6 separate regions of the Homo sapiens genome follow, and all the other regions are reported to be linked to region 4. The links are microRNA targets in miRTarBase. Many come from high-throughput screens and were not tested one by one. Region 4 holds a microRNA gene; each other region holds the end of a gene's coding sequence.
The links. Region 4 holds the annotated microRNA hsa-miR-124-3p (UAAGGCACGCGGUGAAUGCCAA, at 3,631-3,652, opposite strand). A microRNA usually pairs through its seed, bases 2 to 8, with sites in the 3' UTR of a target mRNA and lowers its output. Matches are read on the target gene's strand: a 7mer-m8 pairs with bases 2 to 8, a 7mer-A1 pairs with bases 2 to 7 and ends in A, and an 8mer does both.

Region 1 (5,087 bases), not on the chromosome of region 4:
AATAGTTCTTATTGGATGCATATTCCAGACCCATTTTAGAAATGGAAAATGTGAGATGAAATAACTTGTTACAGGTCACTTTTCTTTTACTCTGGAGCCCGTAATCATTGCCCCTGCAGTGATTTCTCTCCTTCTCTTTCATATACTCAACCAATATTTATGGAGGATCCACTGTGTGCTGGGCATGCACTGAGCACCAGGGCTATGATGGTGGACAAGACAGATTTCATTTCTGCTGTTATTACCTACATTGTATTAGTCTGTTCTCTTGCTGCTAATAAAGATATACCTGAGGCTGGGTAATTTATAAAGGAAAGAAATCTAATGGAATCACAGTTCCACATAGCTAGGGAGGGCTCCCAATCATGGCAGAAGGCAAATGAGGAGCAAAGTTATCTCTTATTTGACTGCAGGCAAGAGAGAGCTTGCGGAGGGGAACTACCCTTTATGAAATCATGAGATGTCATCAGACTTACTATCATGAGAACAGCATGGGAAACACCTGCCCCTCATGATTCAATTACCTCCCACTGGGTCCCTCTCATGATGTGTGGGAATTATGGGAGCTACAATTCAAGATAAGATTTGGGTGGGGACACAGCCAAACCATATCACACATTTTCAACTACTTTATGGAAACTCCCCCTGGAGAGCTCACCTCAAGCGCTCCAGGTCCCAAGCCAGCCTTCTTCTAGAATCTTCTCCCCATCCCTCCCATTCTTCAGAGGGAGTCTCAAAAAGATTTTCTTGGATATTGCTGCATGAAATGGTGAGCATTGTACACAGCACATTATGCAAACCAACACATCAGAGGATGGCTGGTGTCATATCTGCTTGAAAGCTTTCAGCCCCAAACACTTTGGCATTCCTGCCATTTCTGCCAAAAACAACTTCGGAGAGAGGCTGGGGAAGGAGGCTAGGTGAGATCTGTTGGATTCCAGAGATTCAAGTCAGCACTGGTGTGACTGTGAGTTACCACACAGAGCTGGGGTGCCCGAAGGAAGAGACCCTCTTTCTGCCGAGATGTGGTTTTATAAGGAAAGAGAGACATTCCCACTTCTGAGTGGCTTTAGGGGGTACAGACATGCCAATCTTCAGCACATCTTACCTACCGAAAAATTTCCATCTTTTGCTGTCAAAACAAGTCATATCTTAAAGACCACACACACAGAGAAAGTTGGCTTCTCTACTTCATATCCAGAAAGTTCTCAGGGAGAAAATATGTAGCACTAAGGTGAATAGAAGTCAATGTAGCCGGGCACGGTGGCTCATGCCTGTAATCCCAGCACTCTGGGAGGCCAATACGGGTGGATCACCTGAGGTCAAGAGTTAAAGACCAGCCTGGCCAACATGTTGAAACCCTGTCTCTACTAAAAATACAAAAATTAGCTGCGCGTGGTGGCAGGTGCCTGTAATCCCAGCTATTCGGGAGGCTGAGAGAGGAGAATCGATTGAACCTGGGAGGCAGAGGTTGCAGTGAGCTGAGATCATGCCACTGCACTCCAGCCTGGGTGACGAGAGCGAAACTCCGTCTCAAAAAAAAAAGAGGAAAAGAAAAAGAAAAAAGGTAAAAAAAGAAAGTCAATGTAAATCTGTGGAGCCTCTATTTACATATTTCTTTTTACTGTGTTCTTAAAACATCCCCTCAGCATATGACTATGATCGGAGGCTGAGTGCAATGGAAGTGTTCACTTCTAGAACTTTCTCTCTGTAAGGACAGGAAGAAGATATATATGTGGAATGGACTGATGGATATTGTTCATTGTCAAGTTTGGCCTACATCCAGAGACCATAAATGTCACTCTTCTATCACTGAGTGAAGAAAATCATGCACTTCAGAGGCAGAAAGGGCTTGGGACCTCCAGGCCAGGGATTCCCATTATAGGCTCTGCCATTTAATAACTTCATAACCCTGGGAAGGTTCCTCGGCTTCTCTCAGCCTCACTTTCCTCATCTAGAAAATGAAGGTGAGACTCCTACCAGATGGAGTTGTGGGGGATTCACGAGACAATGGAGCAAAACCACTGGCACACAGTGGGTGATCCATAATGGTGGCTCCTGGCCACTTGTACTACAGACACAAATAAACAAAACCAAAAACCTTCCACAGTTAGAGAGTTTTCACTGGGAATTTTGACTTCCCTCTACAATTCAGTCTCCTGCTGTGGACTTTAAGTGGTCAGTGGTGTTGAACAACTATTATCTAACTATTGGCATAGTATTAAGAGATTCAGAGATATTGACCAATGTCAGTGTTTCAGGACCCTTAATAATGGGTGGGTTTCATGATTCCATTGTCAAGATGAGCTCATTTCTGCTCAGAAGATTAAATAATTGGCCCTGAGACTGGTTATCTATCAGCAGAAGCAAACTTTGTGCTGAGATCCAGGTCACTCTTCCATGGTAGAGGCAAAACTCCTTCCAGTTCTGCCAGTGACCAGAGGCCAGGAGTGAACTCAAACCAGCAACTGCGGGCCTGGAGGAGTTTAAGGAGGTTTTGGGTCTGTTCTCCAATGTTCTTGCCAACCCATAACAAACCTGATGACTGTTGAGTGACTCCTGGAGGAGATTATTATTCTTTTTCTATCTCAGGGCTATGTTACATATGTGGAGGAGGGGGCCACAGGGCTGAGAACCTGTGTAGACCTTAAGGGAAAATATCCTTTCTTTGCTGTGGCTTGAAGGAGCTTGGGGAGGGTCTGGAATGTTGCTTCAGTGCTCTTGGAGTTGGTGGTAAGGTTCACAGGTCAGGCCCCAGGCCCCATCCTACAATGACCCCACCCTCTTGGACATTTCTCTAACATGCCAAGCATGATCCCTGTCATGGGAATGGAAGTGCCATGAAGACAGGGATTTCTTTTTTCTCTTTCCTTCATTGCTATTTCTCACCTATGGTAGAGTTCCTGGCAAAAAGAAGGGACAAATAGGATTGAATAAATAGATTAACCATGATTTCAGGGCATATGTTCTGACTGGTCCCTCTGTTTGGAACATGCTTACCCAGGAGAGTTCCCTGGCTAAAAAGAGATTCCTCTTTTTAGGTCTAAGCTCAAAAGTAACCACCACAGAGAGGCTTTTCCTCTCCACCCCATCTAAAGCTCATTACCCTCGATCACTTTATCCCCTTCCCTTGCTTTAATAGTCTTCTCTATCGTGTATCATGTATCATGAGCTCATCATCACTTTTCCCACTGTTCCATGAGGGCAGAACACTCGTCTCTTGTACATCCATTGCTGTATCTCTGGCACCTGGAACACAACCTGGAGTGAGTCAGTGCTCTGTAAGTTATGTGTTGAGTGAGTGAGTGAATGAATAAATCCACTATCCATGGGAAAACTTGGAACAGTGCTTGCTCATAGCAGGTAAGAGATAAGTGCTCTTTTTATTGATGATCATGATGACATCCAAATGTCACTCTGAGGCTGTGGCACTGTGGATTGGCCTCTGACGTCCTCAGTGTGCATCCCAGTAGGTTGGTGAATGTAAAAGGCTTTCCTTCCCCCCCACCTGCCATTCCTCCCTGCCACCATCAGACATGCTAAAGAACAGTGCTTTCGTCAGCTTCTGCTCCTCCTTTCCCTGGTTGTGGAATTGTGACAAGGCATTGGAGACAGTTCATCCTCTCTCCCCCACTCTTAAAATACAACTTTCAGATCCTTCATACTAACATATAAATGAATAATGGCAGTCTCATCGCTGCATCCCATCCGATCCCAGACACCTGACCTCTCCCAGAATCTGAAACTTCCCATCTATTCACTTTCATTCATGTTATCAAATGCCTAAAGTGCCTCCACTTTGCCCCATTTTATTCCCACAGATACTCTTTCCAAAATCCAGCTCCACTATTCCCTCCCCTGTTACACTCAAGCCCAGATCTTACAGCAGTTTCTGCCTTCTCTCTCTGGTTTTCCTTGTAGCCCTCTCCCCCTTCCTTTATAGCCCTTATCTTGGGCCACTGTACTTAACTAGGCCTTTCTTCTCCAAGAATGAAGAATGAAGGAATGAAACTCATTTCTTCTCCAGAATTGAGCTTTGCAAGGCCGGGGTCTTTCGGGTGGGGGAGGGAATGGGCAGCTCTGACATGAATCAGTAGCGGAGGTTCCTCAACCCTGTAGACTCAGCTGTCAGAGCTCCTGGGTTCCAATCCTACCGGCCCTCTTACCATCTATGAGTCCCTGACAAATGATTTAATCACATTATATACCAGGTGTCCCACCTGAAAACAGGGATCCTAGTTATTATACTTCAATAAACACCAAACACCACTGACCAATGGATACAATTATAAAGAAGGATTCCAGAAAGAGATAACTTGCGAAGGGTGGGGAACTGGAAGTTCCTGTTTAGATTGTTTTTCCATTGATATATGGGGACTACTTAATGAGTTTATTTGGGACCAGACACAGAGAAAACCAAGCAATGTTTGAATGTATTTCTGAAAAACACCCAGAGTTTTATTACCATTAATTCAGCAGAAAGTTCGTTGCACTGAAATTATCACTCTGGCTCATTCAGCTCAAAGACTCTTCGCTGCTCAAACACATAGCTGTGTGGGCCATGGAAATACATGCTGCAGGAAACAGCCTCTGAACATCGCATCCAAGAAAAATAAGGCAAATTCCAAAACACAAAAGCAAAAAATACAAAACTTGTTTAAATATTTCGTTGCACTCACTAAGCACAAAAGTTCATATTTTGGGGGGACTGTAGAGAGCTTTAAAGTATACAGAGGGACTTACGACATGACATCTCTTAAGGGAACCCGTTCTCTTTTGACCTCATTAGCATGACGTGTCCTGCACTATGCTGAGGAAGAATGTGCAGAGAGAGCTCCAAGTCTCTCCACAGAACTCCAGGGCAGTCTTCCTCTGGTTTGCCATATCTGGGTCCTCCACACACTCGGGAGCTTTGGTGGCCATGGTCTGGGTCACTGCTAGGCTAGAGGGGGTGGTCTCTTTGCCTTTGATGTGCTCCCTGGGGGACATCTCTGTTTTCTCCTTCCTGGGCTTTGTGTTCCCAAATAGAGTGGAGCTGACTAGCTTAAGACTGGATTCTGGAAAATCCTTTCTGCACACTCTGGTTT
Region 2 (5,087 bases), not on the chromosome of region 4:
TTTTTTTTTGGCAGAGTCTTGCTCTGTTGCCCAGACTGGAGTGCAGTGGCATGATCTTGGCTCACTGCAACCTCCACCTCCTGGGTTCAAGTGATTCTCATGCCTCAGCCTTCCAAGTAGCTGGGATTACAGGTGCGTGCCACCACGCCTGGCTAATTTTTGTATTTTTAGTAGAGATGGGGTTTCACCTTGTTGGCCAGGCTGGTCTCGAACTCCCGACTTCAGGTGATCCGCCCGCCTCGGCCTCCCAAAGTGCTGGGATTACAGGCGTGCTCGCCACTGCACACAGCCGGGTACTCACTTTATACAGCCATCCTGTGGGGTGGGCACTACTATTTATTCCCATTTTACAGATCAAAAAACTAAAGCGCCAAGAGTTAGGATAACGGTTGCTAAAATTTATTTTATTTTATTTTATTTTGTTGCAGACTACCACAATTACTACTTGAGACTGTCACTATGACAGTTATTACTGTTACTACTTGAGGCCGTCATTACAGCAGTTACTACTGTTACTGCCTGAGACTTCATTACAGGACTGAACGAGGGGACGAATGTAGAAATGAAAACTTAAGACAAAAGAAACTGTTGTAAAGGAAAGGGCCAGGGGAAGAAGAAGAGAACTCCCTGCTTCTAGTGAGCAAAGGCAGTCCCTGAGCTTCCACAGCCCTTCCTATTTATTGGGTAGAATGAGCAGGGAGGAGGAGGTAATGACTGGTTAGCTGGTTGATTGATCACAGATTCATATTGTTACTAACAGGTTTCAATTAGGCCTAATCACAAGAAACACTATGCTTGGAGCGTGACTGCCCTCAGCATTCCTTCTGGATGGCAGAAACAGTTTGTCAGTTTGCCAACATTCTGCATTTATGAGAAATAGTCTGCTGCTTACTCATATAGCTTCCAGTGGTATACTGAGTTGATCATGACCCTCAATCTTTCGGCCTCCAATATTTATTTATTTATTTATTTATTTATTTAATGAGACAGAGTCTTGCTCTGTCCACCAGGCTGGAGTGCAGTGGTGCGATCTCGGCTCACTACAACCTCTGTCTCCCCGGTTCAAGCAATTCTCGTGCCTCAGCCTCCTGAGTAGCTGGGATTACAGGTGTGTGCTATCACACCCAGTTAATTTTTGTATTTTTAGTAGAGACGGGGTTTTGATGTGTTGGCCAGGCTGGTCTCGAACTCCTGACCTCAAGTGATCTGCCCGTCTTGGCCTCCCAAAGTGCTGGGATTACAGGTGTGAGCCACCGCGCCCGGCCCTAAGTTTTTTTGTAAATCACGTAACACTTTCAACAATCCTCTGTGTTGAGTATTGCCATTATCCCCATTTTAAAGAAGGGGAAACTGAGGCACAAGGAGGTTAAGTACTTTGCCTAAGATGACAGCACTAGGAAATAGCAGAGCCAGGATGCACACCTGGGCAGGTTGGCTGAGCCCACTCACTCTACCACTGCACAGTGGCGGCTCAGCTGTGAGGTCATGGGCCTGAGTCCCAGCTCCACGACTCCAGGGTAACTTGTTAATCACTCTGGGTCTCAGTTTACTCATCTCTAAACAGGGAGTATTAGTGGCACTTTCCTTTAGGAATGTCCCAAGGATGACGTGCAGTGGTGTGGACAGAGTGCGTGGCAGAGAGAGCCTTATGTATGGGAGTCCCTCGGTGCACATTCCTCATTCTTGTCCGTGTTCTCCCTGTTTTGGGGGATGTTATCAGAATTTTGCCTGGAAATGTGTTTAGGGTTTATCCTTGCAGAACCAGACCCATGGAAATTCTCAATCTGTGAGAGACCAACAGCCATTCTCAAGAGTCAGATAAACTCAGGTTGGACTAGCATCCCACCCCAGCTGCAGACCAGCTTTTAGACAGCTCGCTTTCCCGGGTGTTTCCTTATCCCTGAGCTGGAGTTAGTTATATTTGCCATGCAGGGGCTCTGTGAAGGTTACATGGCTCAAACTCAGCATGTGATTCTCAAACTAAGGTTTCTGGAGGGGGTGATACCTGAGATAAGTGTTGGGGGCTGGGCAGCAGGGGCCTCTGTGACCAGCAACCGTACCTGGGGTGGGTAATTTACAAACACTGTGTCTGGGAATTGCCCTCATTCTCAGAACCCTCCTGCCCTTCCTTGTCCTGCATCTCCCAGGCTCCCCTCTCTTCCACCTTCCCAGCAGGTTCGACTCATGGGAGGCATAACTGGAAACTGGGGGATAGCAGCAGGCAGAAGCCAGGGCAGGTCTCCCCACCTCCATCTACTTTTTGTTAGGTCTGCGAGGCTGTGTCTCCTTAGCGGCTGCAGCTCCCAGCAGACAGCCTTGCCAGGTCCTCTTCCTCTGCCTGCTGGTGCCAGCTCTGGGCTCTGCCCTCCCTCTGCCCCTCCGCCCCGAGGGCTGGTCTGGTGTTGAATTTCTCCTCTTGCATCACACGGTCCCCTACTTGGCCTCTCAGATGGGTGACTAAGTCCTCTCATTAAATTCCTTTTGTTTTATTATGTTGAGTGAAAGACGTCATTCATTATAGAGTACCTGCTGTATGGTTGTATTAATGAGAAGTTCAAGAACACGAAAGCTCATCTATGGTGATAGAAATCAGAGCAGTGGTTGCCTTGGGGAGCAGGGGGATAACTGGAACAGAGCCAGAGGGAACTCCCTGAGATGATGAAAATGTTTTATACCTTGATTGAGGAGTTGGTTACATGAGCGTGTACGTTTATGAAGACTCGTTAAACCATATGCTTAAAATCTGTATATTTAACTATGGGTAAATTATACCTTAATAAAATTAGTTTAATAAGAAGAAATCCCTGTTTAAATACCAAGAGTGTTTTCTAATTTCCTGCTTGGATCCTAATGGAAATACAGTTTTACTTTTTAAACAAACACAGGTAGACCATGGAGGAAAATGTAAAATATATGTATTTGGTGTTGGGTGTTTTTTTTTGTTTTTGTTTTTTGTTTTGTTTTGTTTGTAAACAATAAAACATGAGACTTCGAACAATTTCACCCTTGGGTTAGTTGATTTCAGGCTATGCTCCCCAGTCCCTGGGAGGCAGCCTTCATTCTCCCTGCTCTTCTCTGGTCAAAAACGCTGGGAAGCACTGGTCTGTATAAAGTGCTAGTGCCTAGCACATAGCAGGCGCTCAAGCAATGTTAATTATTGGCTGGGCGCAGTAGCTCACGCCTGTAATCCCAGCACTTTGGGAGGCCGAGGCGGCGGGCGGATCACTTGAGGTCAGGAGTTCGAGACCAGCCTGACCATCATGGCTAAACCCCATCTCTACTAAAAATATATTTAAAAAAAAAAAAAAAGCCGAGCATGGTGGCATGCGCCTATAATCCCAGCTACTCAGGAGTCTTGAGGCAGGAGAATCACTTGAACCCGGGAGGCTGCAGTGAGTCGAGATCGTGCTATTGTACTCCAGCTCCAGCCTGGGCAACAAGAGCAAAACTCCATCTCAAAAAAATAAATAAATAAAAAAGTTAATTATTATTAATATGAATTGGGTTTCTTGGATCACTTGAAGGCCTGTCTTCTGGCTTTCTTTAAGACCATGTGATTTCACCTTGTGAGGTTCACAGAGAACTCTGCCCCTGAATTCTGCCCCGGATAATGGGAGGGCTTTCTCAGAAAACACAGGCCTGACACACAAGATCACGCATAGGCTTGTATTCAGGAACAATTTTACAAACTCCAGAAAAGGCAGCAGGAGATCCAGAATCTCTGTGTGCCTTCTCTTCATCCTACCCCCAGAAAAATGGCCAGTCCAGCCCAGCACCTGCTGCAGCCTCAATATTAAGGGACTGCTTGTCCCATCTCTTGCCCAGGGGAAGTCGGAGAGAAAGCTCGCCCGTGTGCATGTTTGATATAGGCTGTGTGTGTAGGCAGGGAGTGGGCTAGAGGACCCTGGACACCTTGGCCAGCCTCCTAGGCAGTGAGTTAGAGGAAAGGGGACTAGGTCTTGCACCTCTGCCATACCTCGGGATCCAGACAGACCAGGCAGCGTGTTAATATTGGTGTTCTGCATGGTGGACCCAAGCTAAAGTGTTGCCTGCAGCCAAGGGCCTGGGCACGGACCATCTTCCATCAGCCCAGGGCCCAGGCACAGGGCCACCAGCTGGGGATGGTGGACACCGTGTCCCCATTCCCAGCCCGGCTCTAGAAGGCACTGTTTTGTGGACTGCGACCCCTGGAGGGTGGGCAGGGCCTGGACAGGCACAGGCGGCGCTGGGTCTCCAGTCGGCAGAAGCGGTTCTGGTTGGACACCCGGGTGGCCATGCCCAGCCCACAGGTGGTCGAGCAGGGTCCCCAGGCCGTGCTCCATTCTGGGCAGGGGACACCAGGGGGCAGGGAAGAGACAAGGCCAGAAAACTGGGGTCCTAGGGGGGAAAGAACAAGAGTTAGCACTGAGCAGCCAGGGCTCAGCAGCTCAATCAACCCACCTGCCAGCGGCCACGGCAATCTTGGTCAAATGGCTCAGCCTCTCTGCATCTCAGTTTCTTGTTATGTAAATTTCTTAACAGTGGATGGCATTGAATAAAATAATGGGCATGAAGTGCCTAGCACAGTACCTGGTACTTGTAAGATTTCCATAAATATTAGTTATTTGGCAACCAGAGTGTGTTGGTCACGATGGTCCCTCAGTGAACCATGGTTTTCTCGTCTCTTTGGATAAACAGCATTTTACAGGCAGGGGGTGCCCAGCCTGTGTGGAGTGGTGCTTTGGCCCAGTGGCAAGGATGCTAAAGATTCCAGGATTCTTGTGCCAGGAACAAGATGGCAGGTTCACCATGGTCTAGCTTTTTCTCTGCTCCAAGTCTCCCTCTGTGAGTATTTTGGTGTCCTTCCTTCTAGTCTTACACTAGAAGTCCTCAACTAGGGTAATTTTGCCTCCCAGGAAAGGTTTGGCAATATCTGGAGACAGTTTTGGTGATCACAACTGGGGGGATGCTACTGGTATCTAGTGAGTAGAAGTCAGGAATGCTGCTAAGCACCCTGCAGTGCACAGGAAAACCCCCCCAACAAATAATTACTTGCCCCAATTGTCACTAGTGCTGACGTTGAGAAACCCTGATTTCTACCCACATGT
Region 3 (5,087 bases), not on the chromosome of region 4:
TAACGGGTGAAGACAACATGATGTTTGTGCTGCTAAACACCCTACGGTGTGTGGGACAGCCCCATCACGGAGAGTGGACAGAGCCAGCGTATCATATGCTAAGGTTGAGGAGCCCTGGTCTAATGATAGGAGCAATTCAAGATCTGTCTTCACTGCCTTCACAGAGAGCCATGTCTTTCAGAAAATGTGCTGGATTAGTCTCAAGGACCATTTTTTTCAGAGGCTTATTTTTAAATCTGTTCAGAGGAGTGGGGAAGACCCATTCAGAAGAGTTATTTCACAAACACGTGGCAATTATCAGTGCAGATTTCTTGTTAAGGTTCCCTAGCAATGACTGTATTTCCCCAGTAGAAATGGGGTGTGTGTGCTGCTGCACATCACAGGCAGATGTGGGAGACCCTGTTTGTTTTGTGGCAGTGGGAACAGTCGCAATTTTAGAGAGGACTTATTGAGGGGCATTTGTTACTTTAAACAATTTAGTGCCATACAAAGGATTAGACAGAGCTCCTGAAGGGGGAATCTCCCTCATTTTCAGGGTGTTAACTACAGAGGAGTTGAGGGAAGGGGCCATGGAGGGAACTGACTGAGACAGGTAGAGCATCTACCGCCCAAAAGTCAAAGCAAAGACAGGGTTAGAAGGACCCAGCTGGGCATTTTCTGCTCTTGAATCTGCAGAGAGTGTCATTAGGCCAAAATTGGCATCCTCTCTCTTCTGTTTATCAGAAACCACCTTCTCATTTGTTGTCCTTCATTTTAAACAGGGCAGACCTCCTTATGCTGCTTCAGCAGAAGAAGTGGCCAAAGAACTTAAGTCAAAATCTGGGGAATCGAAGTCCTCTGCTATGTCTTCAGACGGGTCCCTGGCTGAAAACGGAGTGATGGCCGAGGAGAAGCCGGCTCCCCAGATGAACGGGAGCACGGGTGACGCCAGGGCCCCCAGCCACTCTGAAAGTGCCTTGAATAATGACTCTAAAACGTGCAATACAAATCCTCATTTAAATGCACTAAGTACAGACAGCGCTTGCCGCAGAGAAGCTGCTCTGGAGGCAGCTGTCTTAAATAAAGAAGAGTAAACTTATTTTTTATAGAGGGTGAAGGATGCTGGAAGGGTAAGGATTTAGGAATATCTGGAGAGAAAGAGAGCCTGCAGTTATGTACATTTTGTCCTTTCCGTAAGAGAAAAATGAGGACTTTGGAAATTCAGATCCCTCTTTGATATCAGAGATTTAAACAACACATTTTTAGTTTTAACCAGTTGTAGTCAAAATGCTACAATAAAACAAAAAAGAGAAAGAAAATGAAGAGCATTTGACTCCCGCACTTAAAATGAAGTACACATAAAGTTTAAACTGGTTATGACAAAAGCCTTTAGTTGTGTTTCTTGAACTATAAAGAAAACAAATTTTGGCAGTCTTTAAGTATATATAGCTTAAAATATAATTTTTAGCATTTGGCACCATATGTATGCCATTATATTTGATTTTGCATTACTGTTTCACAATGAAGCTTTCTTTAAGGCTTTGATTTTTATGATTATGAAAGAAATAAGGCACAACCACAGTTTTTCTTTCTTAAATTTCATCACTGTTGATGTGGTTCTTTTGTGTTAAAAAAAAAAAGTGCAACTATCAAAACTAAAAAATTATAGAGTAATATTGCCGTTCTGCTGATTTTAAATATACAATACATCATACATACTTTACAAGCAAGTTAAATGGAGATAAAGTTGAAATCATAGAAGATGCAAATGACCTTTCAAAATCAACACAATGTGTTCTGAAACTTTCGTGACTAATACCATGCATCTGTGATCAATGAACTATGTGGTTTTGAATCGGATGTAGACCATTAGTACTACTACTTGAGCTAAACTTCTGCATGGTTCATAATTTTTAAAGTGTGTAGTTAATATGCATGTTATCGTCCTTTCTTCCATTCTTAACAGTATGTGCCCATTTGCAAAACAAAAATGCTAATAATCAGTAATAGTCCTATAAAAGATGTTAACTCTGTTTAGTCATTGACTGATCTTGCTCTAACCTTAAAATTTTGTGATTATTGACCTCTGTTGCATTTATTCTAAAGCCCCCCAAAAATTATCTAGCCGTTTCGAATATCAACATTACCCTGGTGTATTCACTGCTGTATGCATTATTGTTCTTTGTTGCTGTTTTATGCCTTCATATTAGCAAATATGAAATTCTGTGAAAAAAAACCCTTTGATCTTAAAAAAAAAAAAACCACCCCCCCCTTCTGTAGCAGGAAACAAATTGCTTGTTCTTGAGAACTTTCCCATCAAGAATTTAGTAGAAGCAGGTATACTTCTATCATTTTGATGTTTTTGTTAATGTTTCCAAACAATGTACTTTGAAATCAGAATCACTTCTTATCGTTTTCATATACTTCTGATGCTCTTCATCACATTAGTGATCAGAAATGAGGTGTAATTCCCCAACCCCTGCCCGCAAGAGCTAAGTAGGATCTTACTGTAAGTTGAAGGGAGTTTTGCCCTAACTCATGGATTGTGCAAGAATGAACTGCTGTTGGGTTTGATTGACTGTCGATGGATTGTGGTGTGGTGTATCTGAAGGCTATTGAATGCAACTTACAATGCTTAATAAAAATCTTTATTCTTTTAGTATAAAGTATGGCGTGGCTTTTAAATTCACTTGTAAAAGCTAATTTTATAGAGGTTTAATTCAAATCGAAACAACTACTGAAAAGATCAGAAAACCAAAGTTGAAAAATATTTTACCTTTTCAAAGTAATTCCAGGTTTCCGGCTTAGAGGGACATTAATATATGATTAATTTGTTTGATAGCTCAGTTTCAAGCAACCAAGGGGATAAAAAAATTCTGTTTGATAAAGCAGACTTACAGAAGAGGTTTTTTTAAGCCCTGAGGAAGCAATAAATTTGACTCCACCACGTTTTAAAAGCTGGATGTTACAAGTATAGTCCGTTTTTCATGCCATCCTTTTGACTGAAGGCTCTTCTCTGCAGCCTGATATGAGGTCCCCGTACCCAGGTCCGCCGAGCGCCTGGAGAAAGCGCCCCGTGCTGCCCTCTAGCGGGGGATGGTGGGCTAACGGCGCCGGAGGCGGCCAGGAGAGCTGCGGCGATCCCGCTCCAGGGAGGGGCTGGCGCTCGCCCGGGGGCGCGTTTCCTTCCTGTGGAAGGGCGGGGCGGGGCCTTGCGTGGCGCTTCCCCGTCCGCCACCGCGCAGGTCCCGGTGCGCGCGCAGCCCGCGAGGCGGGGCCGTGTCAGTGAGGCCTACTCCCAGCTTTTTCCTCCCGGAGGCTGAGACTGCGCCGTTGAAGCCGGTTCTCTGTGCGGGGCCGGCGCCGGGCCCAGCAAAGACCCGAGTGCCCCGAGAGAGACCGAGCAGACCCTGGGAGCCCGAGTCCCAGCAAGGCCCGAGCCGAGCCAGTTTCTCCAACTAGCAGCCTGAGAGCGCTCTTGGTCCTGGCTGTTCAGACCCCAGACGAATTTACCCCTTCTTTTTATGGGGTGGGCCTTCAGAGTTTGAAGGAAGTGAAGCTAGCCTCGCTCACTCCAGGGCCTCTTCCCACCCTGACTCGCCGGTTCCTGACGGTGGCCCGCTGTTCCGGGGCCACGGCTGAGTCCCTCTGCGCCAGCCTCCCGGTGGCGGGCCAGCCAGCCCCTTCTCTGTGCTGTGAGAAGATGGGGGCGCCCGGACGCTCCATCTTTCAAAAACACCATTCCACTGAGGACCCTGCCTGTGACGGGAACCAGTCTAACCCACTCTGGATCGCACGTGCCTGGCAGAGGGACAGCGTTGTGGAGGAACACTTTCCAGGCCCACCAGCTTCCACCATCCATTGCTAGGCAGTACCTCTCCCACCGTGACAACCACGCGCTTTTCTTCCCTCTCTCAAGGGGCAGGCCCACGCCACTTGAGAATAGCAAACTGACAGGGAGAGCCCTCTGGCTTTAAGAGGGGAGAGGGACAGGTTTCTGAACAGTACAGTCTCAGCAGCAGGAGCGCGCGCATGTCAAGGGTCCCTCTCTGCTCCCTGACAAGCAGGTGCTCCTTCTTTCCGGTGGTTCTCATCTCTTAGTTGCAATTGCTGTAGGTGAGAGAGCAGCACAGCTTGCTTTAGGTCACTCTCAGCAGGGACTGGGCTGGAACCCAACCCTTAGCTCCAAGTTGGGTCTGTCCACCCGCTCCTGAAGCTCCAGTAGGTGCAGGCGTGGGCATTAAGGAGAGAGGAAGGGAGAGGGTGCTGGGGCTCCGGCGACCCTGTGGCTGGAACAAGGAGGCCAAGGACATCCCTCCTTGCTGGAGCCATGCTGGCCACTCCTTCCACACCACCAGAATTGCAGAGGAAGGCCCAAGGGCGATGCTGTCATGGGCCCAGGGGTCAGTGGCTGTGGGTGGCACTGGTGCGGGCTGGACTGAATGGTGATGCTGGTGTTTCTCCTTCCTGGCAGCATGATATCCTGGGGCAAGTCGTATGTTCTGCTGCCTGGCCATTTATCCTCTTCCTTTTCAAAAAAATAGGTTTTACTGATTTTTTTTTCTTGTTTCAAAAGCAATATGTGTTTATTGTGGTAAGTTTAAGAAATACTGGCTAGATACACAAAAAGGAAAAGAAGTCCTCGGTAATTCCCCCATCCTGAGACACCTGTTTTTAACATTTGGTCTCTCTCCTTCTATACAATATATAGATTTTTTTCTTATACAAAAAAAATCATGTTAATATTTTGTAACATTTTCCCAACTTAGCATCATTTGATGATTGCCTTTCCCTACCATTCCATATTCTGCCATAGTTCCACAGACTCCACGGTGGGGCTGCATCGTAACGTATTCAGTCTTTCCCCACCAGCATGGTTGGACATTACCTTGTTCTGCAAGCACTTGCGGAGAGTCCGTGTCAGGCCCAGCCCTAGGCCCCATGGGACAGAAGATGTCAAGGCCCCTGCCTTTCTGGCATTTACATTTGAGTAGGGGGACAACATACATGTGTACAAATAAGAATATTTCAAGCAAGAAAATGAGAAAAGATGGGGAGATGGGTGGCATGGGCAAGTGATGCAGCCATGAGTGGAGGCTATCTGGGAA
Region 4 (5,000 bases):
CTGACCTGGAACATTCCTTGCCCTCAATAAGGCCTGATTTTTTTTTTTTTTTTTTTTTTTTTGAGGCCATCTAAATTTGGTGCTGGAAGATCATTCCAGACCTTCTACACAGCTCTATAAGGCAAAAAGCCGCACACATTGCCTCCCATAAATTCCGTTTGAAGTCCTTTCTTCTATGTCTACATTTGTGATGCAATTAAGTATTGAATACATTTTCTTTAAAAAAAAAAAAAAAGCTGAGATGAGATTGAGAAAGACTTGGCAAAACACCCAATGAAAGAATTGTAGATGGGACTTGGGAAAAAAAGTCTTTATTAGGTACCATCATTCTCATTCTTGTTATTATTGACATCCTCGTCACTGTGAATCAGCCAGCCCAGCCTCCAACACACATACCACCAGCACAACTCCTCATGTTGACTCGTGGGCCCTGAAACCACCCACAGAGTAGATGAGGAAAGGGAGGCTCCATCTGTCCTAGGGAGAACGCTTTGCAGCTGCCCCCAGAAGACTCCATTCTAAGGTTGGAATGGGAGGAGGATATTATGTAAGTTCAAGAGGAGGAAAGAGAAAATGTTTTCTCTGTGGAAGCAGCATAGATGGATGGACTTTTGGTGGCTAAATGCCTTCCTCTAAATGCTAGCATTGGATACGGTTATGCGGGAAAATATATGTGTGCATATGGGCACACCCCTCCTCCGAATATCTCTCTGGCAAAAGCTCCTCATACATTCACAAAAGCCGCCCCCCTCCCTTTGGTAACAGAAGTAACTTACAGGAGTTTACCTTTGCCTCTGCTAGAAGGTCAATCTCTTTTCCGCTTAAGAGGAGATCTGGGCTGTTTCTGGCAGGGGAAAGAAGAGTATCACCAATTTTTCCTTTGACACATTTCTAAATCTGGAAGTATCTGGTAGAGTTACCTCAAGAATCATATAAGCTTGCATCACGATGGGGACTGTGATGGCAGTGGTGCATATGAGCCCATCAGGTCCTTCTTCGCGTATTCAGTCAGCAAACTGCCTCAACCGTGTCCTACTTTTTCTTAAGCATATAATTCCCCTTTCATTTAAGCCAGACTGTAGCTAGAGGGGCTCAAATAGGTAAGAGAGAAGATACTAAAGAGTTAAATGCACTCAAAGGGGAGAACTATTCAGATTTCTTATAAAATTACTGGTGGCATAAATAGGCCCCAAATACAGAAGGGAAGGGCTGACCTTCACTCGGACACCTCATTTGAGCACAGAAGGGGCCTGGCAATTACACATGGGGCCAAGTGGTCTATTCATCTCTTTGCCATTTTCAGCCATTAAAGCCCTACATAAACATACATTTCATAATGAGACCCACCCGGTGGACACAGGCAAATGCCCACACCCATGCGCACAGACCTAATAGACCCAGAACACTCCCACACACATTAAAGCTTTCTGGAACAAGAGTTTACATAAGTAATGAAGTAAAAAATATGCCCCTCCCATCATAGATTATCTGCAGCAGAAACCTGGCAGGCGTCAGCCATGGTACCTGTGGTTTAAGCTCTCAGCTTAAAGCATCTGAAAGGGGCATTACGTGGGAAGGCATCTGGAGGTTTTACAGGAGGGCAGCACATCAGCGAAGGGTACAGCAACCTCTGAAGGAATTACGGGGAAGCAGTTACTAAAAAGAGGCTCGTCAATGTGGACGTTTGTGGGGCAAGGGGTTTAGTAATCGGAGGCTTAAACCATGCCTAAGAGAAGCATCCAGCGGCCTTCACAGTGAGCAGAAGGGGCAGAGCAAGGCGCTTCACACCCCAATAAGGCCCAGCACTGACTGCTTTCTTCTTCCCAAACCTGTCCAGAAAGGGCGGAGGGGACACCAGGACTCAGAAAGCTACTGGTTTCGGGGGAGGTATATTTTGAAGGCAACGGCAAATAGACAAGGGCTTGTGAAGGCTCAGGGGTGAGAGAAGCTGTTCTCCCTTTCTGTCCTGCAGCCAAGCTTGCCTTCTGGGACTCCAGAGGCAGCCCAGCACCTGCAGTCTGCAGGATGTGCACTGCAGCTTTCTCTCTGCGGGGGCAAGCAGGTTGTGCCACATTCTGCAGACCCAGAGAAGGTTCTGGAAGTATCTAGGTGAGGTGCAACACACTTAACCTCTGCCTGACTCTAAACACTGCTTTAGGAGGGCAAATGAAGAGCCTAAGAGTTAATAATTACACAAGGATTGCACACAGTAGGTACTTAATAAATATTTGGGGAAACTGAGGCCGGGGAGGGGCCCTGATCCAAGGCATCACTGAATACTAATTTATTTAGCAGGCTAGACTGAGGCTTTGGAGAGGAAAGAAGTCCTCAGTAAGCTTCAGTGGAGACTCTTAGGGCTTGATTATTGTGTCAGGAATCAAATTAATCTCCTAAGCATCCCTTATGGCCTTGGCCTTGCAAAGCCAGGCCTCTGCCATGCTCGGGGGAAGGGATGCAGCAGGCTTCCTGGGCAGAAGGATCCAGCTCTTGGCCTCCTTTCTCTGCTCCTCCCTCTACTGCAGGGACCTGCCCCTCCTCCATTTCCTCCACCTGGAAATTAATGAGCTTAGGTCTTGCCCCATCCGCTGCAGCTTGGTGGTTAATACAGAGCTGGAAATGGGATGAGACTGTGGCAGCGCAGTACGAGGGGGGTCTCTAGGACCAGCTGCTGCTCAGGGTCTAGTGATGGGAGGAAGGCCTGATTTGGGAAGCAGGTTCTTCAGGATGAAAAGCTTAACCCTTTCCATTCCCTGACAGCCTCTTTCAAAACAGTCTTTCCTCAGACCCCCAGTTGCACACATTCTGTTTTTCCTTCTGTTCACATTTTTAAAGGAACACATGTCTCCCTTGGGTCCATGTAGGTTATTGTGCCTCTCCCTTCCTCTGCAGCTCCTGGATCTCTGCCTGAAACTGCAATAACAGCTACAGGGAGGGCGTGAGGTGCTCCTTAGAGCCATGACCACGCTTTCAACTCCGATAGAGCTTGTGAACCCGCTGGGAGCTGGCTCCTTCTTGTCCACATAGCCCAACGACTTCCTTAAGCTTGTCAGGTGCTCTCAGCTCTACAGCAAAGTGTGACAAACAGCTCCCCCTCTCCCTTCCTACCGCCTGCCCTCCTCCCCAAACCTCAAGCAGAACACAATATATCCGCAGTCCAGGCCCTGAGGCAGTCTGCCAGTCTCTGGATGCCAAATTATTATTTTTTTAAGGGCAAACCAAAAAACTCAGCTCAGAACAAAAACACAGTCACGGAGGAAGGTGTTGACCCACATACAATGAGTCCTGAGCCCAGAGAAAAATCTGCACACACAAGCACTCCGCAATGCGCTCCCAGGCGACCCCCTCCCCACGCACACCGCATCTGTGCTGCACAGATCTGCTTCTGTCACAGAATCAGCTTCTGTTTCTCTCCCTGAGTCTGTTTGCATCTCTAAGCCCCTGTCTGTCACAGGCTGCACACCTCCCCACCCCACGGGCTCCGGTGCGGGACAGGCAGCCGGAGGGAGCTCCAGACCCCTCCCCTCGCGCCCGCGGCCGCTGCGCGGAGGTCTGCGGAGGGCGCCTGGCTCGGTCGGTCGCTCCTTCCTTGGCGGGCCCTCGCCGACCCACGGTGCTCAGCCAGCCCCATTCTTGGCATTCACCGCGTGCCTTAATTGTATGGACATTTAAATCAAGGTCCGCTGTGAACACGGAGAGAGAGGCCTTTCTCCTGAGGAAGGAAAGGAGGAAGGAAGGAAGGAAAGGTGAAAGAAAGGAAGAGGGGTGGGTAGAAGATGGAATAAGAAAACCAGGAAAAAGAAATAAAAAGCGGCGCGTGTGCGTGCGCACTGACAGCGGGGAGAGGGATGGGGGTGGGGAACGCCGGAGGAAGGGACCACAGCATCCTCCCCGCCGCAGCTCCCCCAATCACACAGACAATGAGATAACAGCGACGTCTTCCAAAGGCTCTTTGTTCTCCCCCATCCTTTCGCATCCAGGCTTTTTCCTGCAAAGCGGAGGGGGTGGAGGGATGGGGGTGTGGGTGGAAGTGGGAGACGGAGGGGTGCCTCCCCCGTGTTAATTACCCCGGCTCCCCTCGCCCCTTTCCCCGCGCCTCGCCTCCCCTGCAGCTCCAGACAATGAAAAAACAACATCGACCCCACCTCGCCCCAGCGCAGCAACCCACCCACCCATGTCGCCCTCTGCTTCGCCCAGGAAACTGAAGGGGACTAGGAGGAGGAAGAAGAGAGCGAAGGACAAGGAGAGCAGCGGGGACTCGGCAGCGGCAGCCGGGGCAGGGCGCGCGGCCGCCGCCTCTTTACCTCCATCGCTGAGTGGGGGCGCAGCCGGGCCGGGCGTGCCGCAGGGGCGAGTTGCCGCGGTCCGGGGCTGGGACCTGGGGATTCAGCCTTCCGGAACTCGCCTGCTGCAGTCCTCTCGCTCAGGTCCCAAGTGGTGGAGGGGGGAAAGGAAGAGAGACGAGAGAGAGAGAGACAGAGAGAGAGAGAGAGAGAGGAAGAAGAAGAAGAAGAAGAAAAAAAAACCATAAGAGCGAGGCCCATCTGGCCCCTCATCAGCTTTGTCAAGTCTTGCATACGCTAAAATGCTAATGACCTAGATAGCTCATGCAAAATGCAGCAGGGAGGGCGGGAGCGAGGGAGGTGGGAGGGAGGAAGAGAGAGGAGTGCAGGGGGGAGGGAGGGAGGAGAGGCGGAGGGAGGGAGAGAGGGAGAGAGCACCCCTACACTCTCCCCACCCCACCCCCAACTGTCAGCGGGCTTTACCAGGTAAAGGGTGGACGTAGATTTAAAAGGTCACTCGTGTATAATGCGGCTGGATCCCCGGGTCAAAAAAAGGGGGCGAGACAGAGGATGAGAGTCCCTAAAGCCAAAAGGACAATAAGACATCATTTTAAGCCCCCACCCCCATGCCCTCCTCCACCTCTCCACACTGTTTACACACAAATCCTGTCGCCGCCTCATGCATGTGCACGGACATGTCAATTTCTCATCAATTTCTCA
Region 5 (5,087 bases), not on the chromosome of region 4:
GAACCTCCCAAATACTTGAAGCTTTGAGAGAGATGTGGCTGTGGTCTGAGTCCATGTAGCATGTTTTGTAGTTCTGCTTCTTAGAATTATAGCTTAATTCTCTTCCTCATTGTTCTTGTTCTGTAATGACTAGGAAAGAGCAGAGACCAGATTTCTTCCCTCTCAATTACTGATGTTTGTAATAGACAGCCTCCTTTATTGTCCTGCACCTAACTCAGACTAGATGGTGCCCTGAACTGAACTGACCCCATGACAGTTACATCTGCAGGATGTGATGTTAAATGTACCTTTCTTGAAGGAAAAAGACCACCTTAACTACTCAGATCATTGTAACTGTGCATTAAGCCTTGCATAGAAAGATGTTGAAATTCTGTTAAACCTCACTGAACCCAACCTTTCACACTTTGGAACACTGACTTCCATCTTTTTTAAGACAGACATATTTTTCCATTCTGTGCTTCCTGGGCAGGCCATCCTCAACCTTTGTGCTTGAATAAACTCTCTTTAAACTAGATTCTGACCTTTTAAATTATTTTAGATTGACAGGGAACATGTGACAAAGGCTTTCATGTTTAAAGAGTCACTTTGACTGCTGTGTGAAGCAGATTGCAAGGTGTAAGAAAAGAGGTAGGGAAGGCAATATGTTGCAGTAGCCCAGGCAAGATGGGGCTATATTCTGTCCTGGAAGAACAGAGAGAGACCTTCCTAACCACTGTAAAGTAACTGTGTCCAGCACCCTTTTAGTTTCTTAGTATTTTATTTCTTTTGCTTCCTTGTTAAGGTTTTTTCCTCCAACTAGAATGTGAGCTTCATGAGGTGTCTGTCTTGTTCACCACTGATTTCTGACATCTAGTATAGTAGGTACTCAAGTATTTGTTGAATGACTTAATTAAGTTGGATAGTGTCAGTGAAGATAGGAAGATATGGATGAATTTTAGAGATTTAGGATGGAAAGCTGACAGACTGAGAGGATGGATTGGTGACTGGGGTCCAGGGCACTTGGAGTTGCCAGCTTAGTTACTGGATAGTCCCTTAATTTTTTTTTTTAAGGGAATGGGAAGTGTTCCTTGAGCACTCTGAATCTTGTCATAACATGGGTTATTTGTACTGTAGTTATTTGGGTCACATTTTCTTTCCTGCTTGTCTCTGAGTTCCATGAGGACAGAGCTGGAGTATTTTCATCTTTTTATCTAATCCGAGGTCCAACTCAAATGTGTCATGACCAATAACTTATATTTTCTTTTTGGCCTTATGAAAAGGGTGATATGGTTTAGGGAGGTATTATGATTCTCTTTTACATATGAGAAAATTGAGGCTCAGAAAGGTTGGTAAACCTATGCAAGATCCCGCAATAAGGAAACAGTGACAGTAGAATTCTGACAGACTGAACACTTGGCAGTGTTGGGCTTAGACCTGTGGCTTACACTTTGAAAAAACACAACCAAATAAGGCATTTTTTTTTTTTTGAGATGGAGTCTTGCTATTGCCCAGGCTGGAGTGCAGTGGTGCGATCTCGGCTCACTGCAACCTCCACCTCCCGGGTTCAAGTGATTCTCCTCCCTCAGCCTCCCAAGTAGCTGGGACTACCGGCATGTGCCACCGTGCCCAGCTAACTTTTGTATTTTTGATAGAGATGGGGTTTTGCCATGTTGGCCAGGCTGGTCTTGAACTCCTGACCTCAAGTGATCCACCCGCTTCGGCCTCCCAAAGTGCTGGGATTACAGGCATGAGCCACCATACCTGGCCTAAACAAGGCATTTTAACAACCAAGAACAAGTGGCATCTGTGCCTTAGCCATTTTGCTTACATTTCTCCTAGCTGCCTAACGTTCACCAGGTTGCTGCTTGCATCCATGCATTCATTCGTCTATTTATTAAGTGCTAGTGTGCTTCTGAATGTTGCAGTACAAGGGGAGGGAGATATATGGATGACATAGAGCTTTAAAATTAAGAATAAGGCTCTAGGGTCAGACTTCTTATATTCACATGCTGGCTCCACCAGCATGTAAATATAAGAACTATGGGAGCTTGGACAAGTTACCTGACCTCTGTGAGCTTCCATTTCCTGAACTGTGAAAACTAGGGCAATATAACTTATCTCAGGGTTTCAGTGAAAACTAAAGGGATAATACCTAGAAAAGTGGTTAGTTAGCACCAGGACTGGCTATCTAATTTAAAGGGCAAAAGGAAAAGCAGAACTCCTTGTTCAAATATGATTAAGAAGGCAATAGTAGAGCATTAAACCAAGAACAGGGCCCTTCTAAGCATGGGGCCCTGTGTGACTGCACAGGTTGCATGCCTGTGAAGCTGGCCATGGCTGACACAGTGCCTGACATATGGTGAGTGCTTGATAAATGTTAATTATTAATTACCCCCAGCCACTCCTCTGAGAGTTCATCTGTTGGTGAGAAAAGACACTTAACCCCAAAATAACTGCATAAGAAAGAGTATGACAGACACTGAAGACATAGTTGGAGAGTTAGGTGACATTTCAGGATCCACGTTTTAAAAAAGAACACTGAAAAGTAATTTCCTCTTCAGTGGAAAGAACACAGGCTTGTGAGTCAGACATTTCTGATATAGCTAATAATAGCCACTTTTTTTTTTTAATAGATGGGGTCTTGCTATTTGCTTAGGCTGGAGTGCAGTGGCAATTCACAGGCGTGATCATAGTGCACTACAGTCTCAAACTCCTGGGCTCAAGCGGTCCTCCTGCCTCAGCCTCCTGAGTAGCTGGGACTACAGGCGAGTACCACCATGCCTGGCTAATGAGAGCCACTATTGACTGAGCATTTCTTATTTCTCAGACACTATGCAAGATGCCTACTATATATTATCTTATTAAATCTTCCCAACAATCTTGGGAGAAAAGTAACAATTGTTAGTCCCATTTCACAGATAAGGAAAACAAGAATCAGAGCAATCAAGTGACTTTCCCAAGGTCACCCAGCTGGTCATTAGAGGCATGGCTCAAACCTAGCCCTATCTGGATCTGGGCTTATAACCCCTAAGTCCTACGCTCTGCCACTAATCAGTGGGTGATTACTGGTCAGGTTATTTTTCCTGCTGTGGTCTCCAGCTACCTCAGAGGGTGATAAAGTTTGAGTGAGGCTAAAGTCTGTAAAACCTTAGGTGGGTTAAAATATGTAACCCCTATAGCAAAGTGGCCACGGTTATTCTGGGATTTTCCTTCTTTCCTCTTGAGCTAAGCACTGGCACTTAAGAGTTAAGTGGTTTTATCTTTATTGGAAGGAAATGTGTTAAAGACAGACTCACTACAGTGTTGAGACAGTAGTGAGTAGCACAGTAAGGAGACTGCCCAGGACTTGAGGTCCTTGGTCCCTCTATAGAAGTATCAAGTGTTTGTAAAAGGTTTAGCACCCATGTGACAGAAAGAAGCCATCATCCTCTTAATTTCTCTTGGTTTTACTTAATATATAGAAGGGCAAACTAGTGGGCCTCTGAGTGCAAGATGAGGACTTCATTAGAATAAAGACATATTGCCTCCTGGATTTCTAACCCATAGCTCCAAGAGCCTCAGTGTCAGAACATAGGTAAGGGACTTGATTTACTGAGAGACCCTACCCTACAACATCCTGTGGACATTAGAGCTCTGTGCTCCTGTCACTGAGTATCACTGTGAGCTTAAAATATGTCAGCTGCTCCATTTCTCTTTCCTTTTGTGTATTCAGAGCTCTGATTTTAAAACACTGAAATCTGGAAGATTCCAGTAGCTGCACTCTGTCTAAAGCATATGAGGAATGACTGTAGAATTTGCATGTCCTCTATAGCTTTTGTTCACATGTATGCAGGCAGGGATAATGTTATTGATTGTTCAACCTATTTACCTTGACCAGGGGTTGTTAGTAATGCCCAATATGAATCAAGTTGGCACAAGTGTGATCAGATGATCAGGTCTTGTCTCTTTACACTGCACCACCAATGCTTCAGCACTGCCTCCCTTTGCCTTAAGGACTGGGAGTGCGATGCTGTGAATGGGATGGAAGGGGTTATTCACATGTGCTTTCATTACTTCTTCCCTTCCTCAGAAGGGAAGGCAAAGACATCTATAAAACCTTTACAGCTGTGCAGACTTCTGTATCCCTCCATCCTCATTTCCACCCTTTGTAAAGTCATAAGGATGCTCTCCATTTCCCTCTTCCCTTCTACTTGTTCCCTCCCCATATCCCCTAAAATCATGCAGACAATAAAGGCTGGTATTTTGGGTGCCCTGGAGAACGAGGGCTACTTCCTAGTCTTCTCTTGGTGTCTCCTTGTGAAAAAAGCATTTCTTCCTCAGGTGGACAAGCTGGTATTTCCTTTGGAATGAAATCCTCATCCTCTTCCTAGGTCTTCTTCATTTCCCATTCCTGAAGCACAGAAAGAGAAGACAAATCAATTTGCTGAATGGTCTAGTGTGACATGGATAAAGAGATTTCACGGCACCTAGTTAGATGAAGATCTCCACTAGCCAGGTTGCGTTGGGTTCTAACCCCCTCTCTCTCTTTCTGTGGCCCTGAGTAAGTCACTTCTCCATGCTGGTATCTCTTGTCCCTTCATCCATTCTCAACATAGTTGCCTGAATGGTCTTTAAAAAATGTAATTTATATCCAAAACCCTTTGCTCAAAACCTTCCATCATGTCACAACAAGATCCATTATGTTAGAACAAGATCCATGGTTCCTCAGTGGCCTGAAAGGCTTTAGATGAAAGGCTGGTAAATGATAGTCTGTGGGCCAAGTCTGGCCTATTGTCCATTCTCATATAATCCATCAGCTCCTATTTCTAAATGTTTGGAAAAAAAAATCAAAAGAAGACGACTATCTCATGACACATGAAAATGATACGAAATTCAAATTTCAGTGCCTGTAAATAAGTTTTATTGGGCTAGGTGCCGTGGCTCATGCCTGTAATCCCAGCACTTTGGGAGGCCGAGGTGGGCGGATCACGAGGTCAGGAGTTCGAGACCAACCTGACCAACATGGTGAAACCCCCCGTCTCTACTAAAAATACAAAAAAATTAGCCGAGTGTGGTGTTGTGCACCTGTAATCCCAGCTACACAGGAGGCTAAGGCAGGAGAATTGCTT
Region 6 (5,087 bases), not on the chromosome of region 4:
CAGCCAGCACACTCAGGAAGTCATTGTCACTCAGGGCTTTGTGAGTCACCCCAGTAAGCCAGGCCTCATAGAATTAAAGTGGCCGAGGAAAGGTGAAAGTATGTTGCACTGGGAGGTAGAACCCCAGGGTCTGGATCCTGGTTCTGCCCCATTCACTGGATGATCTTGGCTAAGACACATTTTCTCGGAGCCTGTCTATAAAATGGGCTAATACTCAACCTACTGCATGGAGTCACAGCAAGGAGTAAGTGAAATGACAAGGCAGAAGGAAACACCAAATTTCCATTCAGAGGAATAACTATAGGCCTTAATCTGGATGAAGTCTCCCATGAAAACACACAGGCCTGCTAAACAGAAGGGTAAATGTTTTGCCCTTCTGGCTTTAAGCAGTCATAGGAATGTGACAGACATTCCTCTTAGGGAGCGCCTCCTCCTAGGGTTTCCTCATCTGTCTCACACTGAGTGGATGTAATGCTATTTTAATCCTGCTGTGGCCCCCAATACTAGTACTTGTCCATACCTTCTTGCATTTTTAGCGTCTGCTCTGTGGGGTTGTTAGGCCCTGGCACTCCCAGGAACTAGTGCTAAAGCTGCATCTCTCTCTCCCCTCTAGGGATCGATAAAGTTTCACTGCAGAAAGTCTCCACTGCGGTATGCTGACATCTGCCCTGAACCTTCACCCTACAGCATTACAGGCTTTAATCAGATTCTGCTGGAAAGACACAGGCTGATCCACGTGACCTCTTCTGCCTTCACTGGGCTGGGGTGATCCTTGGTGCCTTTGTTTCCACAAGGCCTTTTCCTGCCCCCTGCCTTGCCAAAGACATTTAATCAGCACACAGCTGCCAGACTATTCCCACAGTGCTCCAAATGCACATGAACAACAGTGACGGCTCCAGCCTTCGACCCAGAGCCCCGTGCCCAGTGCGTCAGTGGGCCTGGGGTTCCAGGCTACATCAAGCACTGATGGTGTCAGGGCTGGTAGTTACCAAATCAGGGTTAAGAAACATCAGGGCCACATTTCACTACCTTCACAGATCAAACTCAGCAGCAGTCATGACTGTCTGTCACTACACTGGGGATCCCAATTCCACATAAGCACTTTTGGAAGAAAACAGCCAAAGTTGGCCTAAAATTGGCGCTGGAATTTGGGCTGGGAAAAATCTTGTGGTTATTTCCTTTAAAAAGGAACAAAACTTTAGTATTTAATTAGTTGATTTATTTAATGTAATTTCAAACAATTAAATTATGAATAATGCAATGTACAGTAGAATCACGTTTTGATTTTATTAACACTGACCAAGTTTAACTCCATATGAAGTGTAAGCTTGATATCGTTTATGATGTCTATCAACTGTACCAAAAGTAAAACATTTAAAAACAATCATCTGAATGTCAAGTTTTCTCTCCATAAAGGACTTGCCACCTTAAGGACCCCAAGTCTGCCTGAAACATGAGCCACATCAATGCCGGTAAAGGCCTGCATGACCTAATCTGCATCCTGGAAACCTCTTTTGCCTGAGCTCCCCAGCCCCAAACTAGCTGGTCTGGGAGAGGGAGCAGGCAGGTTCCAGGAGTCAAGCACACGCTTGAGCAAGCAGCACAATAATCCATCTTAAGACTCCTCATTCTGGGATGGCTCCACAATTCCTAAACAGCAGTCTGCAAACTCCACAAACAAAGGCTCTTGCATGTAAGCTCTCATGAGCTTTGCTTTGTCTTCTCCCTGATCGAGGTTGACCATCAACTGCCTGAGGTGTGGATTGAGCAATAAGCTTCTTAATGTTGCAGATTCCCCTAAAAATTAACAAGAAAAAAAGCCAGTCTGAGTTCAAGTGGAAACACATGGAGATGGCTGAAAAGTGAAGAGCTATTTCAAGTGTAATAAAACTATCAGCAAGGTGTGGTGGCTCATGCCTGTAATACCAGCAACTGGGGAGGTCAAGGTGGGCAGATTGCTTGAGCTCAGGAGTTCAAGACCAGCCTGTGCAACATGGCGAGACCCCACCTCTATAAAATGAAAGGTAAGACCAGCATATCAAACTATTTCCGCATTAAATGCAGTAACAGATACCAGTTCTTGGTATCTTTGTAAATATTGTAACTTCGTGCCACTTCAGCTAAGAAAAAAATGCTTTATCAGCACAATCACAAAGCAAATAGTAGCATTAAGCTGCTGGCATGTTTTCTTTCTTTCTAGCCATAAAAGTTGCCAGTGGTGAAGACGGCTATACGAAATAATCTGAATGATGTCTAAGCATGCCATTTGGCATGCAGCAGCACCAGTAGCAGGGAACCAACAATAATACCTGCATGGTACTTCACAGTCTGTAAAATTTTTCACACCTATTACTAGCTCATCTCCAAACTCAGTCTAACTAATCATTACCATGAGACTAAGTGCAAAACATAACCTTTTAACATGATTCTGTGAAATGGGAAGAATGAAATTAACAGACCCCATGCACATGTAACAGAATGTTGTAAGGACTGAATAAGCAGTGCTACAAAAATGGCAACACCTGTTTCCCCCTAAATCAAATCATGTGATAACCAGTTTGTGTTAAGGGCTGGACTGTGAGCTGAGCACTGGGGATCTGGGAATACAGGTCCCTGCTGTACAAATCGGTATGTGAGAGACAAATTACCATGAAATGTAACAGTGATTTATTACTATTAAGTCCAAGTTGCTATGGGAAACCAAAAAAGTGCCTAATTCTGAAAGAGACACAAAAGGTCAAGAAAAGCTTAGCTGAGTGAAGAAAACTTGAACCAAGGCTTGAAGGAGGAGCAGAATTTTGCCAACCCACAAGACCAGCAGGATTCCAGGCAGAAGGAATGGTGTGGGCAGGCTGGGAGGTGTGAAACCCTGTATGTTTACAGATTATGTGGCTAGATAGTAAGAGCCCTACATGCCATACTTATTCAAGAAATTAAAAACTTTTTAAAAAATCACAATCCTTACAACACAGTAAATGTATCTCAACGATTGACAAGCATAGCACAGACTTACCTAAATTCTTTAAATTCTGCAAAGAAACTCTGTCTTCTTCCTCATCACTATTGAGAAAATCAGCTATAGAGTCATCATCATCTAAGGAATACAAAACAGTCAATGGCTCATGGCTAAAAAGGAGGCCTGGGCACCAGATTTTAACCACTACTTGAACAGGATAAAAATGTGTGCACGCACATGTGATAGTGATAGGGGTATTCAAGCAGGTACAGACAAAAATCCTCTTCTCCGGAGTCTGTGACTATACTAACACTCCTTTTTTAGAAGAGGGAGGCTAAGTGAAAGAATTGGTGATTTTAACAAATGCACTCTAGTGTTCACATCCTTACTGTATATGTGGTCCTGTGGTCTTTAGGCTTAGACCCCGGTTGTCTAATAACTTAATACCCATCCCCACCTCAACATGGCTCCAACCCTGTGATGGGCCAATTAACTGGATGCTCTGTAAAAACCAGCCAAGTAGAATCTCCTGTGCTTTCAGCATGGGCAGAAACTGCTGGCATTGCCTGAACCCAACCTGGAAATTTCTCAAAGGGCAAAAATGGGCCATGCCTTTGGAGTGAATGTTCAATACCTCTTTGGTGGCACCAGAGGGGCTGCTTTCAGAGCCTGGCATGGTGCTTGACACCCAGGAGGTATTAAAGAACGTTTAGATGGCTGGACGGATGGGTTGACAGCCCACTACTGCTGTGAGCTCTGAACCCCCAGCAGCAGCGAGATGATCTAGGACAAAGAAAGCCTCCTGCCTGGGCTGAGTTCAGGTGAACTGACAGTCCCAGCCAGATTCATGGAGGGAGACCAGCAGCTATGGGCTAGAGAAGGCTCCTGCCAGCAGGGCCCACCGCAAACCCCCAAACCACAGCCATGGCCTTTCTCATCTCTGTCTTCTGCCCATTTTTCTTCTCCTGAATACTGCTTTCAGGCTGTTGCCTCAATATCACCCATGATGACATGGCCCCACTCCTGATGCTCAAGGCTAAGGAAGCTGTTCCTTCCCAATGAAGCTATTGTTCTGGATTCCCTGACCAGCCCCACTCTCCCCTTTTCCTTCGACTTATTCTATGTGAAGTCCCTTGTAGATTTGTTTGAAGTCAACCAACCCACCTTTGTTTTCCACAGGCTTTACGGTTTTGGTAGGAAGAGCTGATCTTATTTTTTTCTCAACAGGACGAGTTTCAGGGTTGCACTGTTCTGAAAAAGACACAAATCCCAGGCCCACATTACCTCCATTTCAGCGACAAGGCTGCACCTCCCTACCAAGGTAGCATCTAGGTAGGAAGCAAGTGTCTGGGGTAAGGGATGTGGGTGGGTGCCCAGGAATGTGGAAGAAGTGAGAGATCAAAGCAAGAGAGAGATTAAGGAAAACCGCCAGCAGGCTGAGAAAGCAGGACTCATTCATGCACCCCAAGAACCTGTCCCCATCCTCCCTACCCTGCCGAATCTTACAAAATTCTCACCACAATTAACTGAGGTGTTTGAAATAGCTGCTGTAAACCAGATACCAGATGGGATAAAACTAGGGGCAAAACCACCAAAGAACTTACAGAGTCAACAGAAGGCCAGCTGTGCTGGCTCACGCCTGTAATCCTAACATTCGGAGGCCAAGGTGGGAGGATCACTTGAGCCCAGGAGTTTGAGACCAGCCTGGGCAACCTAGCAAGACTATGTCTCTACAGAAAATAAAAAAAATCATCCAGGCATGGTGGTACACACATGTGGTCTCAGCTACTTGGGAGGCTGAGGCAGGAGGATCCCTTAAGCCCAGTGTGTCAAGGCTGCAGTGAGCTGTGATTGTGCCACTGCACTCCAGCCTGGGTGACAGTATCAACAGAGCATGAAGTCACAGGAAAGGGTTCTGAGGACATAAAGGCAGGACCAGATTGTAGAGACTTAAAATGTAGATTTGACAATATGCTACGGAAAGGTTCTAGTCATGTAGGTGGCAGTTACAACAGCTGCCAGTGACTAAGTGCCGAGCACTGTGCCAGGTACACAGTGAGATACATAGTGGCTCAATGAACCTTTACGAAGCCCCCATGACATGGAGACTGTTAATTCCACTTACAGATGA

Region 1: the mRNA of FGFBP1 is a reported target of hsa-miR-124-3p. Seed matches in the 3' UTR shown: 7mer-A1 at 4,614-4,620.
Region 2: miRTarBase lists CCN5 as a target of hsa-miR-124-3p. The part of its 3' UTR that is shown has no 7-base or 8-base seed match.
Region 3: the mRNA of FAM120A is a reported target of hsa-miR-124-3p. The part of its 3' UTR that is shown has no 7-base or 8-base seed match.
Region 5: the mRNA of AFAP1L1 is a reported target of hsa-miR-124-3p. Seed matches in the 3' UTR shown: 7mer-A1 at 1,447-1,453.
Region 6: the mRNA of MYO19 is a reported target of hsa-miR-124-3p. Seed matches in the 3' UTR shown: 7mer-m8 at 776-782.

The regions. Positions count from the first base shown.
Region 1 is chr4:15,931,143-15,936,229 of GRCh38, forward strand. FGFBP1 (fibroblast growth factor binding protein 1) reads right to left here. Exons shown (of 3, transcript NM_005130.5): 3 at 4,435-5,087. The coding sequence ends at 4,786. Among named protein-coding and RNA genes, the nearest start is that of FGFBP1, 5.1 kb to the right of the region's middle.
Region 2 is chr20:44,726,377-44,731,463 of GRCh38, reverse strand. CCN5 (cellular communication network factor 5) reads right to left here. Exons shown (of 4, transcript NM_003881.4): 4 at 3,653-4,377. The coding sequence ends at 4,157. The region is part of intron 3 of KCNK15-AS1 (KCNK15 and WISP2 antisense RNA 1); the gene reads left to right. Among named protein-coding and RNA genes, the nearest start is that of CCN5, 14 kb to the right of the region's middle. RefSeq lists an enhancer at 4,230-4,755.
Region 3 is chr9:93,563,468-93,568,554 of GRCh38, forward strand. FAM120A (family with sequence similarity 120 member A) reads left to right here. Exons shown (of 18, transcript NM_014612.5): 18 at 762-2,645. The coding sequence ends at 1,073. Among named protein-coding and RNA genes, the nearest start is that of PHF2, 11 kb to the right of the region's middle. RefSeq lists a silencer at 2,946-3,365.
Region 4 is chr8:9,899,769-9,904,768 of GRCh38, forward strand. MIR124-1 (microRNA 124-1) reads right to left here and starts at 3,704; the gene lies at 3,620-3,704. MIR124-1HG (MIR124-1 host gene) reads right to left here and starts at 3,561. Exons shown (of 3, transcript NR_024281.1): 1 at 921-3,561; 2 at 787-844; 3 at 296-518. LOC124902057 (a long non-coding RNA gene) reads right to left here. Exons shown (of 4, transcript XR_007061170.1): 3 at 4,764-4,860; 4 at 4,302-4,419.
Region 5 is chr5:149,339,289-149,344,375 of GRCh38, reverse strand. It overlaps AFAP1L1 (actin filament associated protein 1 like 1), which reads right to left. Exons shown (of 19, transcript NM_152406.4): 19 at 739-4,369. The coding sequence ends at 4,346. Among named protein-coding and RNA genes, the nearest start is that of GRPEL2, 3.7 kb to the left of the region's middle.
Region 6 is chr17:36,491,933-36,497,019 of GRCh38, reverse strand. MYO19 (myosin XIX) reads left to right here. Exons shown (of 26, transcript NM_001163735.2): 26 at 614-1,384. The coding sequence ends at 769. ZNHIT3 (zinc finger HIT-type containing 3) reads right to left here. Exons shown (of 5, transcript NM_004773.4): 3 at 4,121-4,207; 4 at 3,014-3,094; 5 at 1,198-1,797. The coding sequence ends at 1,616. Among named protein-coding and RNA genes, the nearest start is that of ZNHIT3, 7.8 kb to the right of the region's middle.